Linked DNA regions of Homo sapiens. The protein of the gene in region 3 purifies or fractionates together with the protein of the main gene of each other region. This does not show direct contact. Each region holds a gene or a part of one and is shown on either strand. Other genes may lie near its edges.

Region 1 (7,029 bases), on a different chromosome or scaffold from region 3:
TTTGAAAGAGAGTCCTGTGTTTGTGTTCCAGATCTTCTGGAAAAATCAAGAGTCACTTTCCAGCTGAAGGCTGAAAGAAGCTACCACATCTTCTACCAGATTCTTTCTAACAAGAAGCCTGAGCTCATAGGTGAGGAAGTCACCAGTGGGGCTGGTCTTTTAGGTAGTTTGACTCTGATCACTAGACCAAGGAGAGTTGTATCTACGTAGAGTGACTCTACAGTCAACAGGGAAAGTTTATTTTATTTTATTTATTTATTTTGAGATAGGGTCTCACTCTGATGCCCAGGCTGGGGTGCAGTGGCACAAGCACAGCTCACTTGTAGTCTTGACCTTTCTGGGTTCAAGTAATCCTCCAGCCCCAGCCTCCCGAGTGGCTGCGACTACAGGTGCATGCCCCCACACCAGGCTACCTTTTGTGTTTTTTGTAGAGATGAGGTTTCACCATGTTGCCCAGGTTGGTCTTGAACTCCTGGGCTCAAGCAATTTGCCCGACTCGGCCTCCCACAGTGCTGGGATTATAGGTGTGAGCCACTGCACTTTGCCAGGAAAAGCTTATTTTAGAAATGGGATGTGGCTATCTGGGCAGTGACATGCCAATTTGAAAACCTAATCAAATGGAGGGCAACAAGATTAGACCACTCCTGACCAGCTCTGGTTTATAAAAACCTTCTGAGCAACTGAACACCTAACTGTCCTTTGGCGCCCCCTTGTGTTCTGGCACAGAAACAACCTATGGCCAAATGCGACGCCAAAGCAAACAGAATAATCAAGCCCACGGAGGCACTGCACACTGCCCCTTGTCTGCCCCTCACAGAGGTCTCCATGCACACTGCTTCTTTGCTCTTTGGCTGTATTTGCTCAGCCTTCTGGTCTCCAGCTTGGAAACAGGCTGCTGCTTTTCAACAGATTTTAGAAAAGGCTATGATTATACCAAACCACCTGGGTTGGCTCTCGTCCTGACCCGCACTCAGCCAGTTTTCCCTATTAACTTCTCCCAGCCGACACTGATATGCACCATTAGCGTGCAAGGCAAGGGAATTTAAAGGTTCTCTCTAGGGTCCTTCATCTCCATTGTGTGGGAGACTGAAAAGTCTTCCCTGGACTATATTTTCCATGACAGCCTGAGTATTGTGGAACTGTCTAAAAGATTTTTAATTCTAAGTTCAATTTAGGATCCAGCGGTAAAAGTTCCAGCCCAGGGTGCAGGAGCTCAAGTCCACTGGGTGGGTTTTTTCTTTGCATCTGCATAACCTCCTGGAACTATTTGTCATTTCAGAGCTGCTGCTTATTACGACCAACCCTTACGACTACCCGTTCATTAGCCAGGGGGAGATCCTGGTGGCCAGCATAGATGATGCAGAGGAGCTGCTGGCTACAGACGTAAGTGGAACCAACAGAAGGGGTGGGTGTTCCTCCTCCATCACTGGGGCCAACTGACTGACGTGCTGCCCTTTCCATGCCAGAGCGCCATTGACATCCTGGGCTTCACCCCAGAAGAGAAATCTGGGCTCTACAAGCTGACGGGAGCCGTGATGCACTACGGGAACATGAAGTTCAAGCAGAAGCAGCGAGAGGAGCAGGCCGAGCCGGATGGCACAGAAGGTACAAAATCAGTGTGACAGCAAACCAGAGCGGGTGGCTGATCTGCTGAGGTCACTTGGTACTGCTTTTGAAAGCAATTAATCCAGCCAGGCACAGTGGCTCACACCTGTAATCCCAGCACTTTGGGAGGCTGAGGGGGCCAGATCACCTGAGGTCAGGAGTTCGAGACCAGCATGGCCAACATGGTGAAACCCCATCTCTACTAAAAAAAATTAGCTGGGCATGGTGGAGCATGCCTATAATCCCAGCTACTCAGGAGGCTGAGGCACGAGAGTCAGACAGAGTTTTGCTCTGTCATCCAGGCTAGAGTGCAGTGGCATGATCTCAGCTCACTGCAACCTCTGCTGCCTGGGTTCAAGTGATTCTCCTGCCTCAGCCTCCCGAGTAGCTGGGATTACAGGCACACACCACCGCGCCTGGCTAACTTTTTTGTATTTTTAGTAGAAACGGGGTTTCACCATGTTGGCCAGGCTCAAACTCCTGACCTCAAATGATTCGCCTGCCTTGGCATCCCAAAGTGCTGTGATTACGGGTGTGAGCCACTGTGCCCTGCCGGCATGAGAGTTTCTTGAACCCAGGAGGCAGAGGTTGCAGTGCACTGAGATCGTGCCACTGCACTCCAGCCTGGGCAACACAGTAAGACTGTCTCAAAAAAAAAAAAATGGATGGAAGCGATTAATCCTTCCATCTGGAGAAGTGAATGACCCTTTCTGGGCCTCCGATGCCCATAGCTATTGTTACCACTCGCTTTTCCTGAATCACTCGAATAGTCTTGTTTCAGATGCAGTGAGGGATGACCAGGGCTTTCTGAGACCCAGCCCTGGCTTTTCATAAAGTCCATTATATTCTCTGAGTGACTTAGCTTCCATTGGCCATGTATATGCAGTTTAGCCACAGGGAATGCACAATGTACCAAGATGAACTTAACCAACCTTTGAAACTTCTGGATGATTTTCAAAGCAGCTCTTCTACTTTTCTAAGCACTGTCCTTGTTTTCTTGCCAGTGGCTGACAAAACAGCCTATCTGATGGGCCTGAACTCTTCGGACCTCCTAAAAGCTTTGTGCTTTCCTAGAGTGAAAGTTGGGAATGAGTACGTTACCAAAGGTCAAACTGTGGATCAGGTAACAGCTTCAAGGCCGGGAAAGGGTGCAGGACCCTGCTGGCCACTTCCTTCATATCCAGTAGCTGATCTTTCCCCTGATAGGTTCACCATGCTGTGAATGCTCTTTCAAAATCAGTTTATGAAAAGTTGTTCTTGTGGATGGTCACTCGCATTAACCAGCAACTGGATACGAAGCTTCCAAGACAACACTTCATTGGTGTTTTGGACATTGCAGGCTTTGAAATCTTTGAGGTTTGTGTTACTTATATTCATATTTTCATATGGCTTCATATGAGGGAAATTGGTTTCATGATCCTAAAGGGAAGATAGCAAGATGGCGGCTGTCTTAGTTTCCTGTAAGAAACTAGATGGAGAGTGGATGGAATAGAGGAGCGGTACTTATTGGAAGGGTTTGTATTAGGGTTTTTTGTTTGTTTTTTTTTTTTGAGACTGAGTTTCACCCTGTCACTCAGGCCAGAATGCAGTGGCGCCATCTCGGCTCACTGCAACCTCTTCCTGAGTTCAAGTGAACCTCCTGCCTCAGCCTCCTGAATAGCTGGGATTACAGGCGTGTGCCACCATGCCTGGCTAATTTTTGTATTTTTAGTAGAGATGGGGTTTCACCATGTTGGCTAGGCTGGTCTCGAACTCCTGACCTCAAGTGATCCATCCGCCTCGGCCTCCGAAAGTGTTGGGATTACAGGCATGAGCCACCGCACCTGGCTGGGTTTGTATTATTTTAAAAGAGGAGAAGATGTCTATCAAGTGGAATTTTAAAGGACATTTTCAAATGGATAAAAGAAAAAAAATTAAATGCAATCACTGATTTAGGGACTGCCATCAAATAGATACAGAGAATTTGATAAGTTAATCACGCACTATTTTCTATAAATATCCCACTGGTTCTGTGTTAGACCGTGCATAGCCGCGGCTGGGCATGGTGCCTCATGCCTGTAATCCCAGCACTTTGGGAGGCTGAGGCAGGCAGATCGCAAGGTCAAGAGATCAAGACCATCCTGGCCAACATGGTGAAACCCCGTCTCTACTAAAAATACAAAAATTAGATGGGTGTGGTGGCGTGCGCCTGTAGTTCCAGCCACTCTGGAGGCTGAGGCAGGAGAATCATTTGAACCTGGGAGGCGGAGGTTGCAGTGAGCCGAGATGGTGCCATTGCACTCCAGCCTGGTGACAGAGCAAGACTCCGTCTCAAAAAAAAAAGAAAAAAAAAAGTGCATAGCCACTCATCAAAGTGTATATTTAGGTTTCCCAGGTACAAGACATACAGGTGAAAAAAACAGATGAGCTTGTAGTCTAGTAGAGAAGAAATAGAAGTCTATATGGCACATTGAAGAGTAACTACAAAATAAAGTACACAAGAGATGCCCAGACCTTGGGAACTCAGGAAAGGGAGAAACACCTTCTAATTGGAAGTTTACAGAAGACGCCAAGGAGGAGATGCGGTCTGAGGCAGGCCTTGAAGATTGTGATTGTATTTGAAAGCATTAATGTGTTTGACAGGAACCTGGGGCAATGAGGAGGAATGTTGACAGTCTTTGATTCTGAAAGAAGTCTAACTTTTCACATGAATGTTGTATTTTTTTATTAGTATAACAGCCTGGAGCAGCTGTGCATCAACTTCACCAATGAGAAACTGCAACAGTTTTTCAACCACCACATGTTCGTGCTGGAGCAGGAGGAGTACAAGAAGGAAGGCATCGAGTGGACGTTCATTGACTTCGGGATGGACCTGGCTGCCTGCATCGAGCTCATCGAGAAGGTATCCAGTTCCATCCCCACCGTAAGCTCTTCTCATAGACTCTTCTGCTCATTACTGCAGCTCATATTTACCTCTCTGCACTTTGCCTTGCCTTCAATCCAGCCTATGGGCATCTTCTCCATCCTGGAAGAGGAGTGCATGTTCCCCAAGGCAACAGACACCTCCTTCAAGAACAAGCTGTATGACCAGCATCTTGGAAAGTCCAACAACTTCCAGAAGCCCAAGGTGGTCAAAGGCAGGGCCGAGGCTCACTTCTCACTGATCCACTATGCGGGCACCGTGGACTACAGTGTCTCAGGTTGGCTGGAGAAGAACAAGGACCCTCTGAACGAGACTGTGGTTGGGCTGTACCAGAAGTCTTCCAACAGGCTCCTGGCACACCTCTATGCCACGTTTGCCACGGCGGATGGTAAGAGGAGTGCTTTGTGTCCATGTGATTTCCCTCCATTTGTTCCACAGTAACAAAAAACCTTTTAGATTCACCTACAGCACGTGCCCTCCCTTATTGCTTTCAGCTGACAGTGGAAAGAAGAAAGTTGCCAAGAAGAAGGGTTCTTCCTTCCAAACTGTCTCTGCCCTTTTCAGGGTAAGAAAAATACAAGTTTATTTGCTTATAATTGATTTAAGTGACATCTAAATGAGCAATGCTGAGATTCTAAGCTTGATTTATTTGAGAGTAGTAGTGTTGTCTTAATCTGATTACTGTCACTGAGGTGAAGTGACAGATGATAAAATATAATAAATACGGTCTAACCAATGTGCGATGAGAGTATCACTATTATCTTATACCAAAGATAGCTGAGTTGGCTTGTCCGAGTTTCCAGCATAAACTCTCCAATTTTCCTAAAGGACACCAGCAATAGACCTCACGCTCCCAGTGGATCCATCACCTGAGTTGATTTTAGAAAGCATTTTGTACTTGGCGAGCCTCTGGCTCACTGGGAGACAAAAGACAATTGTATCAGTTACTAGCCTACACCTCCAGCCATAGGACCATTGAAAGCCTGAGTTAGGCCGGGCACAGTGGCTCACTCCTGTAATCCCAGCACTTTGGGAGGCCGAGGTGGGCAGATCACAAGGTCAGAAGATCGAGACCATCCTGGCTAACACAGTAAAACCCCGTCTCCATTAAACATATGAAAAATTAGCCAGGTGTGGTGGCATATGCCTGTAGTCCCAGCTACTCAGGAGGCTGAGGCAGGAGAATTGCTTGAACCTAGGAGGAGGAGGTTGCAGTGAGCCAAGATTGAGCCACTGCATTCCAGCATGGGTGACAGAGCGAGACTCCGTCTCAAAAAAAAAAAAAAAAAAAAAAAAGACAGAGTTAAATCATTTCACTATACTTTAGAACTTATGATAAATTTTAAACATAGATCTTATTTCATTACAATGGATCTCTGTCTTCATAAAAACCTACAGTAGGATGGCAAATGTCATTTTTTTTTTCTCTTAGGAAAACCTGAACAAGCTGATGTCAAATTTAAGAACTACTCACCCTCATTTTGTGCGTTGTATAATTCCCAATGAAACCAAAACTCCAGGTGAGACACCTGCTGGCTCGCTAGGTGGTGCTCAGTTTTTAAGAAATTCTGTGTAAGGCTGATATCTCGCTTCTGTTCCCAGGGGCTATGGAACACAGCCTTGTTCTGCACCAGCTGCGGTGTAACGGTGTCCTGGAGGGCATCCGCATCTGCAGGAAAGGGTTCCCAAACAGGATTCTCTATGGCGATTTTAAACAAAGGTGTGTAATAAACATGTTCTATATGCTTGGGGATGAGATGTACGAACACTGGAATTTGAGAGGGAGAAAGATTCGTATGAAAAGACCTATTTCGAAAGAACAGATATGGACCTCCATGTAAACTGAACAATCTACCATTTGGCCAAGTTATATATATTTGTTTCTTCCATGTTTTTCTCTGGAATTTATCTGATATACAAAATGGCAGGAAAAGCTCTGACTGAAGAGTCAAGAGATCTAGATTCTAGACTGCTCTCTAGCAATGTGACTCCGAGCTAGTTCCCTCATCTCCTGGGACCTTGGCCTTCTGCCTATAGGAAGAGAGGCCTGAACTACATGTTCTCCAAGGTTTGTGTCTTTGCCAACAGTCTGTGATGATTTCCATGTCTACAATGCAGATACCGAGTGCTGAATGCCAGTGCAATCCCTGAGGGACAATTCATTGACAGCAAGAAAGCCTGTGAAAAGCTTCTGGCATCCATTGATATTGACCACACTCAGTACAAATTTGGACATACCAAGGTAATGCATCAGTTCTGACAGATGCTGGCCTTTTCGTCCTCTTGACACAGCTTCTCTAGGAAACTGACTCATGTCACCCTTCTGCCCCATAAGGTGTTCTTCAAGGCTGGCTTGCTGGGAACCCTGGAAGAGATGCGGGATGACCGCCTGGCCAAACTAATCACCCGGACACAAGCTGTGTGCAGAGGGTTCCTCATGCGTGTGGAATTCCAGAAGATGGTGCAGAGGAGGTCCAGCAGGGTCTTTGTTCAGACATGAGCTCTTTGGGGAAGGGGAGTCT
Region 2 (7,029 bases), on a different chromosome or scaffold from region 3:
ATCAACCTTCCCAGTCTTAGATCCTCAAACTGACCTACATAAATAATTTACTCCAAACAAAGTCACAACTTTTATGAAAACCTTTTACTCCATGTAAATGCACTCCTTAACATTCCTGGGCATGCATCTAACCTAATGAATTGAACATAGTCACCAGTCAGAAAGGAAAATTAAATGTGGAGATATTTCTAAATCTCACAGAATCTGGCCTAAGTACTGTTCTTGTGATTTTGCCCAAACAGTATCACCACAAGAAAATCCTGTCATATATTAATAAGCAAATATGAAAGTAAGAATAATAATTCACTTTATCAATTGATATTCAGTTTCTAAGAGCAAATATGTCTTTTCCATGAAGCCAGGGACTTTTGTCTGTCGTCTGGGAAATACTCTATCCCATAACACTGCCTGGCATCTAGTATGAAATATTAGTGGAGGGTGAATAAACCACAGTGGAACAACAGAAAAACATAGTTCACATACAGTCTTTGTTTTAATGTTTATTGGTAGAAACAGATCTTCAATGCATACTTTGTGTTTATATAAACTCTACATTCTCTTAAAGGTTTTCGTTTTGTTTTCACTGGAGATTTTTAGCCTCCAAGTGAACTTAACATATTGCCTATGCATCTGATTCTTTATAGACTTTTAGATTTTAAAACTAAATTTGAGAAACCATGCATACTGTATACCTTATTTAATAATCCAAAGAATTGTTTGCACTTTCAAAAAAGTTACAAAAAGGCTGAACACAAGTTAAATAACCTATATGATGTAAATTTTCCATTTCTGAATACTTTTTCAGTATTATATATTGCTTGCTGTCTAATAAGTTAGATTGTCAGAGACGCTTCAGTAAATTATCTCTACTTTAAAATTATATCTGAATCCCCTTTCTCTGAGATGAACTTGCCAATATTAAACATTGTGCCATATGCAGTATTAGCCCAAAAGCTTAAATAAGAACCAAACTTGTAGACTGAATATTTTAACCTTAAAATTATATACCTATATATACACCTATGGTATGCTGCATATTAAATTTAACATTTCAAGTAACATATATATAGCAAACATTCAGCCAAATACTCTTTCATGAAAAGATACTGTCCTTAAAATAAAAAGTTAATGAAAAGCTTATTTAGACACAAATGTCTAGATATAAGTACTAAGCCTATGAAACTTGAAGCTAAAGTCTGCTGTACTATTAAGAAAAAGAAGATTGATTCTTAACCTACTGAATTGTGCAGATACAAAAGTGCTTAGCATGACAAAATTACCAAAATAAAAACATTTTAGAGGTTATTTGGTTCTAGCAATATTAACTATTCTGTATTTCTGGATAATTTAACATTTGTATTTTAAATTTTATATAAATTTCTTTTTAACAAGTTTAAAAAAGCACACGAAAAATAGTTCAAACTATATATAATCTGTTATTTTTCATCCTGGTTAGCTAATCACAAATAACTCAGCAAAACAATGCTTGAACATTCAGTTCTACTAAAAAACAGTATTTGAGTAGATCCCATCACCTTACCCATTGTTTGCTATGTTAGACCCTAAAACAGGCTGCCGACAGATCGGACAAGTGCAATTCTCTGAGAGCCATCGGTCAATACAATGAATGTGAAATTCATGCATGCAAGGTAATTGCCTGAGCTTGTTTCCAGTTACATAGTCACTAATACAAACACTACAGATTTTACCTAGTTCACTATCAATACTGTTATGCTCATAGTGCCTGGTGGAAAGATTGTCAATCTGCTCTTTGGTTAAACCACGTATTCGATCATCATCATCACTTTCATTTAGTAAAAAAAAGTGAGCAAGGCGAAGAATGGGTAGTGTTCCAGTTTCAACTAAATTGTTTGGATTTCGCAACTGCCTGCCACCCCTACTGTCACTGTTTCGAGTATGAGGCTGGGTGGTCTCGTTTTCACCATGCATTTCAGTGCTGTCTCCTTGGGCCTGCCTGTCTTGAGAGGAACCTTCCCTGTGCTGGCTCCTGTTGTTATCTGTACCTAAGTTACTCAGTTCTGAGTGCATGTCTGGTAAATGCTGGCCATTTCTTTGAAGTTCTGACTCAGAATCGGCCTCCATTAGAGAACTCAGTTCTCCAAACCCAGTCATGATCTGCCTTAAAATTGACCGAAGAGCCACTGATGATGGCTCAACAAGCTCATTCTCAGAAATCCTACGAAGAGGAACTGTTATGGTACTAACATAGGTTCGAATACCTGACCGCTCTAAACGAGAAATGGTTCGGCGAAAGCCCCCACTATTGCTTTCAATAGTGACTGTATTTTCTGCTAGCCCTACTCTGGATCGAGTTCTATTTGCAATACTATCCCGATCTCTATTTTCTCCAGGACGGATCCTTCTCACTTGAAGGTCCAGTGTGATTGTTGGATGTCGTCGTACAGCAGTTGAGGATCTGCTGGATTCTTCTCCTTCTTCTACTGTTATTCTTGACACAAGCCTTGAATTAGAGAATGGGGTATATGCAGTACCTCTGCGTTCTCGTTCTCTATCTTGCTCTAAAAAGACTCGAGTTCTACCTCTCCTCCTAACAGATCTTCTAGTGGTTTGCTGTACTGGTCTACTTTCCCTTTGGGAATTATGATAAACAGTGCCACTCTGTCTCTGAATTGGTGAACGGCTTCGACTATTGGAAGTAGATCGTAATCTTATTGGCTCTAATCTTTGGTTTGTATTCCTCACTGTAACATTACTTCTAGCCCCATTTTCCCAAACATGTGCTGCTCCAAACCGTTGCCCCTCCCTTTGCCTGAGTTCACTACCACCTGATTGGTTTGTGTGACTACTGAAATTAGTGCGTGAAGCGTTAGCTCGAGGAATGCCAGCTGCTCCCCCAATTCCATTTCTTAACCTTCCCAATGTTGAGAAAGATCCTTCAGCTGGATTTTGCCCCCTTGAAGCAAGCCTAGTCCTTGGAATGTTGGAACTACTACCATTGAAATTCACTGAGGTTTGGCTTCTTGTTCGCCTAGCCACAGGACTAGTTGACCTTTGTTGCCTATTTGCAGTATGATCTCTGTTACTATCTGAAAGTGGAATGTCTGTATAATCTTCTCCATGAATTTCAAATCCTCTATTTTCATGATTTACGTGGATTTCCAAACTAAACCGAAACTCTCCATTGTTCGGGTTTGTTCGACTCACAGCTCTCCAAGTTTGGTTCCCATTTTGTCCACTTCGAGTTGCATTTCCTGTGCGCCGAAAGGTGTTCAACCATTCTAGAAGAGAATCTTCATGTGAACTTTCTCTAGGGACTTCTGAGTCTAGAAAGCAAAGCAAATCAACTTAAGATCAATTCCTAAGACACACCTTACAGCTTTATTGAAAACTTGTAAGAAAAACAAAGTTTGTAATAAATTAAAGAACATCTGTGGATTTTAATGAATGAAAGATGGCAAAAAGACAACTTTCTAAAAGAAAAGTATATCTACTATAAGCATATTATAAAAATTAAATTACTATTTACATAGTTACAAAGCTTTAAATACTATTTATGCAACGCTATGGAGAAATCCTCATTCTTACTTTCTATCTGCCCATTACTAGCAAAATACTAAGGCAAATGAGAAACATGTCCACTACCAAAAGTTTACATTTAAATTGCTTTATCAATATAGTAATATCAATAAAATACAAAGACAAACTTTATGTAAAATTTGTCCTGTATTTGTGGAATCTTTCTGGAAAAGCCAACTCAGTCATTTTTGCAACTAGGTATTTCTGTAATCTTAGAAATTTTTCCTATTTCTCAGGTGCTGCCAAAAATGTACACATCAAGAAATGTGAGTTTCTGAATATAACATTAAAACCACATTACTGTATTTGTCTTTGTGTGAAGCTGAGAAACCAGGCAAGTTACTTAAGGTCTCTATGGCTGATCCTTGTCTATAAACTGGAGTTAATAATAGAATCAATCTCATAGGGTTATCCTGAGGATAAAATAAGACGCTATATATAACATAATTAGCATAATATCTGGCACATAAAAAGCCACCCCATAAATGTTAGCTGTTATACATAATAAAATACATTTTCTATTCATTTAGAACGTAAGCTCCAGGAAAACAAAGATTTTTGTAGTTTTAGTCACTGTTACATCTCCAGCCTCTACAGCAGTATCTAGTATAAATCAGACTTTCAATTAATATTGCTCAATTAATCAATTTAGAAATGTGTCACCCATAAACTTTTTTGACTAAGATACTGCCACTGTGCCAAGCTTAAATTTTCCATTTATAACCAGTAGATATTATATAAAGTACAAAACTTAATAAAAAGCATCAACACATTAACTACACAAACTTCAACTTTAAAGTTTGTTCTACTCAAAAATAGCTATTATAGGCCGGGCGCGGTGGCTCACACCTGTAATCCCAGCACTTTGGGAGGCCAAGGCAGGCAGATCATGAAGTCAGGAGTTCGAGACCAGCCTGACTGACATGGTAAAAACCTGTCTCTCCTAAAAATACAAAGAAATTAGCCAGGCATGGTGGCGTGCGCCTGTAATCCCAGCTACTCAGGAGGCTGAGGCAGGAGAATTGCTTGAACCCGGGAGGCAGAGGTTGCAGTGAGCCAAGATTGTGCCACTGTACTACAGCCTGGGTGACAGAACAGGACTCTGTCTCAAAAAATAAATAAACAAATAAATAAAATAGCTATTATATGACATCATTCTGATTTCATTTCATTCCTGCAATCTCTCTCGTAAGACTTTTTTAAATGCTGAAGTTGAAGCTATTAATCAGCTGTTGATGCCAATAAAATAAACAGCAACTGAGCCATATTCCAGAGATGATGAGCTATTTTATATTTGATGAGTACATTTTCCACTGAAACATATTCAAAAGATCAGTATTAATTATTGCATCTATATAGTACAACTTACATATCTAAACACAAATAATAAAATGTGTTAATGTCCACTTCCCATTTGTTTGGAAAAAGAATGAGTAAAAGGCAGGTGAACATGAATTATTTTAAATGCTACTTCCTTCTTTGATTAACATTTGATTAAGTGTAGTGATGATGGTGCATGTGAAAGAGTTTGCCAAGTACCTACTCAAAGCTACCCTACTCTTCTTCCATTGTAAAAGCATCGGAAATTGGCTCGTGGACAGCCTGGCAGTTAGGTGTGACCATGAGACTAAGTTCTCATGAATGGAATGGGAGAGTAAGCGATACATCCTACTCTCACGCTAGTGCGTGGACCTCCTTCCTACCAGCTAGAACCTAGATATGGTTGCGACTTACCTTGATCATACAAATGGTACCCTGGAGCAGTGATGCCCCATAAATCTTTCTGAAGTAATGAGTATGTTCTGTATTTGTGCTGTCCAATACAGAAGCCACTAGCCAAATGTGACTATTAAGCACCTGAATGTGGCTAGTATGAATGAGCTAAATTTTAAATTTAATTTGATTTTAATTAATTTCCATTTAAATAGTCACATGTGGCTAGCAGCTACTGTACTGAACAGCACAGTTGTAGAATCATTCTGTTAGCTGAGTGGGTTCCAAGAGGATTTCCTTCCCTGGACTGTTAACGTAAGTAAGAAACTTCTAGCTTATTGAGCCATTGCATTTTGGGGTTTTTACATAGACTTCATGGTAACTAATACAATGATTTTGATATAATATGTGAAACTACTAATAAATACCTCTGAGGAGGGAAGTAGAACTGGTTAAGAGGAACACAAAAGTGGCTTTTCCTTTTAACTCTACATACTTCATTTAGTTTGAAGTTCTTTTATAGTACTTTCCTTATAAGAACTTTTTATATGTAAACCATCAAACAGAACAAAGAAACAAAAACAGGTTTCCTAACTCAGTCTTTCTACACGGTTCTGTATATAAATTTTTAGAAGCTAAGTAATATCACTTTAGAAAAAGTAATGTGTACATTCCAAGATTAAAAAGAAGCATGCTGGGAATTAACTTAATTGTATATTATTACATAAAGCTCTCTGAAGGCAATCTGTGTGTTTAAGACATCTTTGCATTCATTCCTCTGTCCTATACTGCTTAACCATACTGCTTTACTACTCATATATATATTATCTGAATGAGTATCACATTAAAACTGGAAAAAATTGAAGACAAACATACTATACAAGGTCTAAGAATTTCATTTCTGCAAGTGCTCCAATCAAGCCTGTTCCTTATGGAAAGGACTCCATAGTACCTCTGTAATTCGTTCCATCTCTCAAGTCAGGCTGAGATGCTAGTTGTTCCTTGACGCCATCTAACCGCTGTTGCAGTTCTTCTGATGTTATTTCTCCTAAAACAATGAAAAACTGCTCATTTAAGAATTCTGAATTAAGTTTTATGAGACCTCATGAAGGGTAAGACTAATCTTTAGTAACCTATAGAAGACAAATGTCTTATTACTTTCATATGTTCTGTAAATTGAAGACAGTTAAAAATATTCAACTGGTACAAATGTGCATCAATTCGGTTGTGCTTCATTTATTAATCTTTTATTAAAAATTATTAAAATAAGATTTAATTTGAATAGTTGGTAAAGTGCTGCCAGTTGATACACTTAGGAATCTATAAGCTATAACTGTGGATTTTTGTCAGTTAAAAAGAAATTAAGGGAGCATTTATAGAGAAAACTTCAAATATTTACTTGAATTTTATCCCAAATACTTCATTATATGGGTCATCAATATACAAACACACAATATATAAACATACAAATTTCCATTAGTTCATTTGTAAAAACTTTATGGAACACATTGGGCTTTGGGGGGAGCTATTAATTCAGCTGAATAAATAAATTATAATACCCCAAATGAGTTCAAATTGGGTTTTAAGTCATATTTTATTTGTATAAAAATTACAAATAGGACCATATATGTAAATACTTAACACCATTATGTACATTAACCTGTTTCTTAGTTTGGCATTTGTATAATAGTGCTCCATGTCCCCTATTTTCACCTTATAAAATACAGAAGCCAGTGATTTTCTACTTTATTATACTAA
Region 3 (5,657 bases):
CATAAGCCTGAGAGGACCTCCCTCTCCAGCTAAATGACCCCTCTGTGTGGAGAGAGGCCAGTTGTCCCTTCTAGTCATAAAGACTGTGCTTTATGCTGAGACTGTCGTTCCTCTTTTTTTTTTTAAATGTGAGATTCCCTTTCTTGTATGAAATGACAGCAGGCAATTGTTTGTGCTGAGAATGACTTTGACAAAATAAGGAGTTGGAAACCATGTTAATCTCCAGTGCCCTGAGAGCTTTTGCTAATGGGTGCATGAAATCCAAGAGCCTGGGGACCGCCCCGGGAATGGGCACCAGCATTCTCCTCTTCCCGCCCAGCCCCCCGACTCCCTCCCTGGGGACAATGACCTGCATTTCTGGGTCTGCCTCTTCTGCAAATGCTTCCTTCTGTATCATCCAAAAACACACCTTTGTGACCTAGAGATTGAAGATCTCCTCGTCCCACCTAAACGTGTTAAGCTTAAAATAAAATTGTGCAGGTTTCCAAGGTCCAGATGTTCACAGACACTTTGCAGTTTCGCTTCAAGTTCATTACGTTTAATTTTTTTCCAAAAAAGTTTTGCATTGACAGCTGTACAATACTTTGGTGTTAACCTGTGGTCTTCCTTCACCTCAGTGAACTCTGCCCTGCCCATCTGTCCAGAGGAAGTCTTAGCTCCTACCCCCCACCCTCCCTGGCGCTTGGATGGGAGGCGACACAGTATGGGATTGTGAAATCCCTGCTGCGATGCTGGGTATCTGGAAGGGGAGAAGGGGGTGGAAGCAGCGCAGGGAATGCTGTGAGATGAGAAGAGCTCACATCGATGGGAAATGGCCCTGGCCCAGGCTCCAGAATGTGACAGCAACAGTGGCCTGGCTGTTTTCCCGGGGGGCGGGGGGCGGGACTGGCAAACTGGGGGGAGAGGCAATTAAGACGCAACAATCAAACCAACCTTTAAATAGTAACTTTTAAAAATATAAAAACAGTTCAGTACAATGACTTTTCATTCTTTTTTTCTTCGGGAATAACTTTCTTCTACCCTCACCCTCCCTTCTGGCTAGAGCCTTAACAAGAGGTGGCAGATGGACATCTGAGACCCAGAGAGACTCTGGACGCCCCACGCGCCCAGCCTTGGAGAGGCACAGGGTGTGTCGCCAGCCTCCACATCCCATGCCCGGTGCGCTCAGCTGGGGAGCAACCTCACTGAAGGTGGGTGGCTTTCCCTGGAGCCCCTCCCACCTCCTCAGCAGACGGAATCACACATTACAAAATAATCCATAAAAATGCAGTATAAAAATTATCTTCGATATGCTACATCCATGGAGAGCCTGCCACCAGGACTCACAGCGGCCTTTAGCTTTTCTTTAAAAGGAGAAAAAAAAAAAGACCAAAAGGAAAAAAAAAACAAACAAAAAAAACCCAACCCAAATCCTAACACCTCAGAACATGTTGGTACCAAAAGGTGGCACCTGCCAGAGGCGATAGTCTACCTAACCTGTTTGGGCCACAAGAGACTGCAATCTGCAAGAAATATCCACAGTGTGCCAGGATCTGTGTCCCCCTCTCCCACCCCCCAACCCCCACTGCTCTGCCCAGGGTGGGGGTGAGGGGGATCCTCTTTTCAGACTCACAACCCTGTAGGTTTATACACTTTCCCCCCTCTAAGGGGAGAGGAAGAGACTGTAGGCGGGAAGGGGGAGAAGGCATTTTATAAAAGGACATCACTTCTAATTCTTTTTATTCAAATTAAAAAAAAAAAAAAAGCACCCACATCAGTTGCTATTTTTCTCTGGTAGCTCCCTGAGCTGAGTTGCTATGCTGTCTTCTAACTTTTTGTCCTTTTTAGGCTGTGTCCCAAGATTCAGAAGAGCTGGAGAGGGAGTTCCTTTGAACTTCCATTGCTCACAACAATAACTAAGTGTGCACCAAAGAGAAAGACCAGGCTGAGGAGGAGAGAGGGAGAGACCAAGAAAGAGAGACACAGAGAGGGCAAGAGGCAGCCAGAGTGCAAGAGACCACAGAAAGCTCCATTTCTGCGGGTGTCCGCCTGGACGGGCCCCCATCTCAGTGCCTTCCATCCCTCAGTCTGGCCGGCTGGTTATCAGTCCGGATGCCCAGACCCGTGTGGAGGCACACGCATTCCAGCAGGCACCTTACGGCCAACCTGGTTGCCTTTTCCACACTCTAAGACTTTTCTCCTCTTTCTTCAATTGGTTCCCCTCCCTGTCTCCTCTTCCCAGGTGAGAGCATCTGTTTATTTAAAAAAAAAAAAAAAAAAAAGCCACCACCACGAGTGGATTACAAATACAGCAGGCGAAATACACACTCAGAGTTTCCGGTGGGAAGGGGCCTCCTCTCCCACTGATCAGTCCGCAATAGGAGTCTGTTATTTACATTTTTCACAAATCTTGTGCACTGCACAATCGGCAAAGAGAGACCCCCCCATCCCCCAGCACAACATTGTGGTCCACTCCAGCACCCCCGACCCAAGGTGAGGGACAGGGCAAAAGAAAAGGGAAGAACAAACAGAGACTCATGAGCGGGTCTGTGGGGGAACCGGAGCCATAAGCCTCCAATAAATCTATTTGTAGCAACTGCCAGCATTGTTCAGGGGGAGGAGGAGGAGCAGAACCCTTCCGAGTCTGTGAGACACATCAATCCAGGCCCAGGAGTCCAGACTGTGACGGGGCACGTGCCCTCTCAGCCGGCCGGAGCGCAGCCCTGAACGCTCGGCTGCCTGCGGCCCATCCTCCGCCATCCTCGGGGCCCCTCGCCTGGGGGTCTCCCTGTCAGAGCCGAGTCGGTTTCTCCCAGAGTTTGACAGCCCTGCTGGAGTTCTTGTTTAGTAGATGACCTCATAAACTGTGGCCTTCTTGTCACCAGAGCCTGTTACAATGTATTTGTCATCCGCTGAAATGTCACAACTCAAGACAGACGAGGATTCTTTAGACTGGAGGAGGAAGACGAGGAGAAGCAGCAGGAAGGCGTGGGGTGCAGGGAGAAAAAAGACAGGAATTCATTTTCCAGTGCTCAACACCATCTCGGTTCTCTCGGCAACAATTGCCCTCCTCTGCCCCTCTCTGATGCTCCGACCTGGAGCACAGTGCGGTGAAGAGGAGGTGGGGGAGGCTTTAAAGCACCCATGAAGCATTTTCAGGTAGAGCTCCCCTCCCACCTGCTTTTCCATAAGGAAAAGCTCAGTAACAGTCTCCCACGTGATCTTTACAGTAAGTCATAATGATCAGAACAGGACGCTTTAGCAAGAGCTTCTCCTCCGAGTTTACAAATAGGAAGAAGCATTTCCAAGCTAGGAGCTGGCGTCAGCAGCTCAGGCCCACAGCCTGATGAGTTAGGAAAAGGATTGCCACCTGATGTTTGAAGCATGTGCTGTAACTAGAGACCCTAACAATGAGGTTTGACACGCTGCACACCAGACATTTCAGCCTGGGTCCAGAAAGCGGCATGTTGGCTGAGGGAGTGAGAGAGAATGCAAGTGTGTGTGTGGAAGCGCAAGAGAGAGAGAGGAAGAAAGTGTGTGGGGGAGACCAAGTGTGCGTGAGTAAATGAGTGTGAGTTTGATCGTGTATGGGAAAGAGTGCACGTGTGTGTGTGCACACGTGTGTGTGCCAATCAGTGCAGTATGGCAGGCCCCAGATCCTGGTAGATTATAAAAAGCCTCTTCCTTTCCTCCTCTCTTTCCTGTCCATGTCCCTGCTGGTGCTGAATGCAGGTGGAAACACTCACTCACTTGAGGAGGCAACACTGCTCTGGGCAAGGCTGCCGGGTGCCCAGGTGCCCAGCGCACCTCCCGCAGGTGCTCAGCATCCAGCCCAGAGCAAAAACACTTATGCTATTCCTCACTCTCCAAATCCGACAAGCGCCCCGGCTTAGAAGCCCTTGCCCTCGGGGGTCAGAAGCCATCAGTAGCAGATTGTGTGTCCTGCTGAAGTCCCCAGGTCCTTGGGAGAACCCAATCTTGCTCCCCTATCAGGTAGGGGTGGGGAGGGGACCAGGGCAGGTCTGATCCTGGCTCCAGGCTCCTCCTGTTCTTCCTGCTGCTATCCTCACTCCCATCACCATCACCAAGTTTCAACTCTGGGTAGAACCCAGAGGAGGACTCAGACGGTGGGCAGTACCTGGAATATGCTGGCTCCATAAGGCGTCCTCCAGGCGTTGAGAAGGTTATCTTTCCCAGTGCTCACGAACCACTTGCCTGCAGGTGGGAGGCAAAGGCATGATCAGGTTGTAGCTCACTGCCCTCTAAAGCAAGACCTGCCCTAGACATGGCCAGCTGCCATAGAAAAGCAGTGAGAACTGCTAACTAGTATAACTCTCCAATTTCGAGAGGCATTTTGCAAATGGGACATGCGGACACCTGGAGAAGGCCTTTCTCTGAAATCCAGGGGGAGGGCTGGGCGGGGCTAGGATGGGAAAAGGTAGGATTTGAAGTTCATTGCAGTGATAACGCTGCCTCAAAAGATTCTTGTTAAAGCCACTAAGGTTGACTGGCCTTTCTAAATTCTACTACTGGAAGGCAACAGGAAATACTGAAAATATCCAAGCCCTGGGAGTCTGGAGACCTGGCTGAAGACAGCAGTCAGTGGGCGACCTTCCTCCAAGCAGGAACTCGGCCAGGGCTCTACAAGTGTTAAAGCCCTTATGCTCCCTGAAAGCCATGAGCACCATGCTATTCCCGACCAGAGAGAAAAATCCACTAGAGTTCAGAGAGGGTGAGATGTTCAAGACTGCACAGCTTGTCAGTGGAGGAGCAGACATTCCCATCCAAGGCTCTCAGATGCCAAAGCAAGTGGTTGTAACCATGGAGAGGAACTGCCTGCACTGCTACTGTCCTGTTCCTTTGCCCCAAGCCTGCAAGAACTGGCTCTGGCCTAGTGTCCTGAGAGTTCAATAACTCATGGTGACATCTGCATCCGAGAAACAAGGATGTGGAACAAGATCACTTAAGGGTGTTGAAGGGGCACCAGCTCAGGGGTCAGGAGGCCTGGTTCCAGGGCCTAGCTTATTCTATAAGCTTTGGGCCCCTCTTCTGTCCTGTTGGGCCAGGCTGCCCTGGGTTCCCCACCCCACTCCATCAGGCCTGGGCCCATCCAAGGCTCACCGCAGTAGGCGAACTTGAGGGAGAGCACGCAGCTCTCGTGCAGGTGCAGCTGGTACTTGTCAGGCTTGGTGTGGTGCAGCACCTCCACGTTGCTGCTCTCCATGCCCACAGCCAGCCACTCCCCAGTGGGGCAGTAGCCCAGCGAGAAGATCTGCAGGTGGTGGGAGGGCAGATGGACTGAGCTCAGCATTCTCTGCCCTCAAGAGGAGGGCGGCTCCCAAAGGTGCTGCTCAGGTCCTCTGAGGCTCAGGGTCCCTCCCCACCCACCCAATAACCCAGGAGTATGGGAGGTCATTTTCCATCCCCATTTTATAGGTGAGAAAGCACAGACATTTTGCATTCAGTTACTCTGTCTCTGAGACTTTCATCTTTCCTTAAGAAAAAAGTGAGTTAAAAAAAAAAAACTAAAATATTAAAAATTTAAGATTAAAATATTAAAGTGAGGAATGCAAATAAGAAATAATAATCCCTGGCATTTACTGAATGCTTTCTGTGAGTCGGGTTTATGGCTACGCCTTTTAGAGGGATCATTTCAGGTGCCCACATCAGACCTAGGA

The links.
Region 1: the proteins of TLE3 (region 3) and MYH3 purify together in Homo sapiens (affinity purification with mass spectrometry; 2 studies listed by BioGRID and IntAct, with this or other methods). This does not show direct contact.
Region 2: the proteins of TLE3 (region 3) and RNF6 purify together in Homo sapiens (affinity purification with mass spectrometry; 2 studies listed by BioGRID, with this or other methods). This does not show direct contact.

The regions. Positions count from the first base shown.
Region 1 is NC_000017.11:10,640,283-10,647,311, reverse strand, and holds part of MYH3 (myosin-3), read left to right. Parts: intron 1-31; coding exon 32-130; intron 131-1,279; coding exon 1,280-1,383; intron 1,384-1,466; coding exon 1,467-1,605; intron 1,606-2,609; coding exon 2,610-2,728; intron 2,729-2,811; coding exon 2,812-2,961; intron 2,962-4,315; coding exon 4,316-4,486; intron 4,487-4,588; coding exon 4,589-4,895; intron 4,896-5,001; coding exon 5,002-5,072; intron 5,073-5,939; coding exon 5,940-6,027; intron 6,028-6,109; coding exon 6,110-6,227; intron 6,228-6,625; coding exon 6,626-6,749; intron 6,750-6,842; coding exon 6,843-6,979; intron 6,980-7,029. UniProt on the Homo sapiens protein: Muscle contraction.
Region 2 is NC_000013.11:26,212,288-26,219,316, forward strand, and holds the end of RNF6 (E3 ubiquitin-protein ligase RNF6), read right to left. Parts: intron 6,320-7,029; coding exon 6,224-6,319; intron 3,306-6,223; coding exon 1,537-3,305; 3' UTR 488-1,536; downstream 1-487. UniProt on the Homo sapiens protein: E3 ubiquitin-protein ligase mediating 'Lys-48'-linked polyubiquitination of LIMK1 and its subsequent targeting to the proteasome for degradation. Negatively regulates axonal outgrowth through regulation of the LIMK1 turnover.
Region 3 is NC_000015.10:70,047,274-70,052,930, forward strand, and holds the end of TLE3 (transducin-like enhancer protein 3), read right to left. Parts: intron 5,252-5,657; coding exon 5,101-5,251; intron 4,195-5,100; coding exon 4,118-4,194; intron 3,075-4,117; coding exon of another isoform or gene 3,012-3,074; exon of another isoform or gene 2,938-3,011; intron 2,932-2,937; coding exon 2,824-2,931; 3' UTR 517-2,823; downstream 1-516. UniProt on the Homo sapiens protein: Transcriptional corepressor that binds to a number of transcription factors. Inhibits the transcriptional activation mediated by CTNNB1 and TCF family members in Wnt signaling.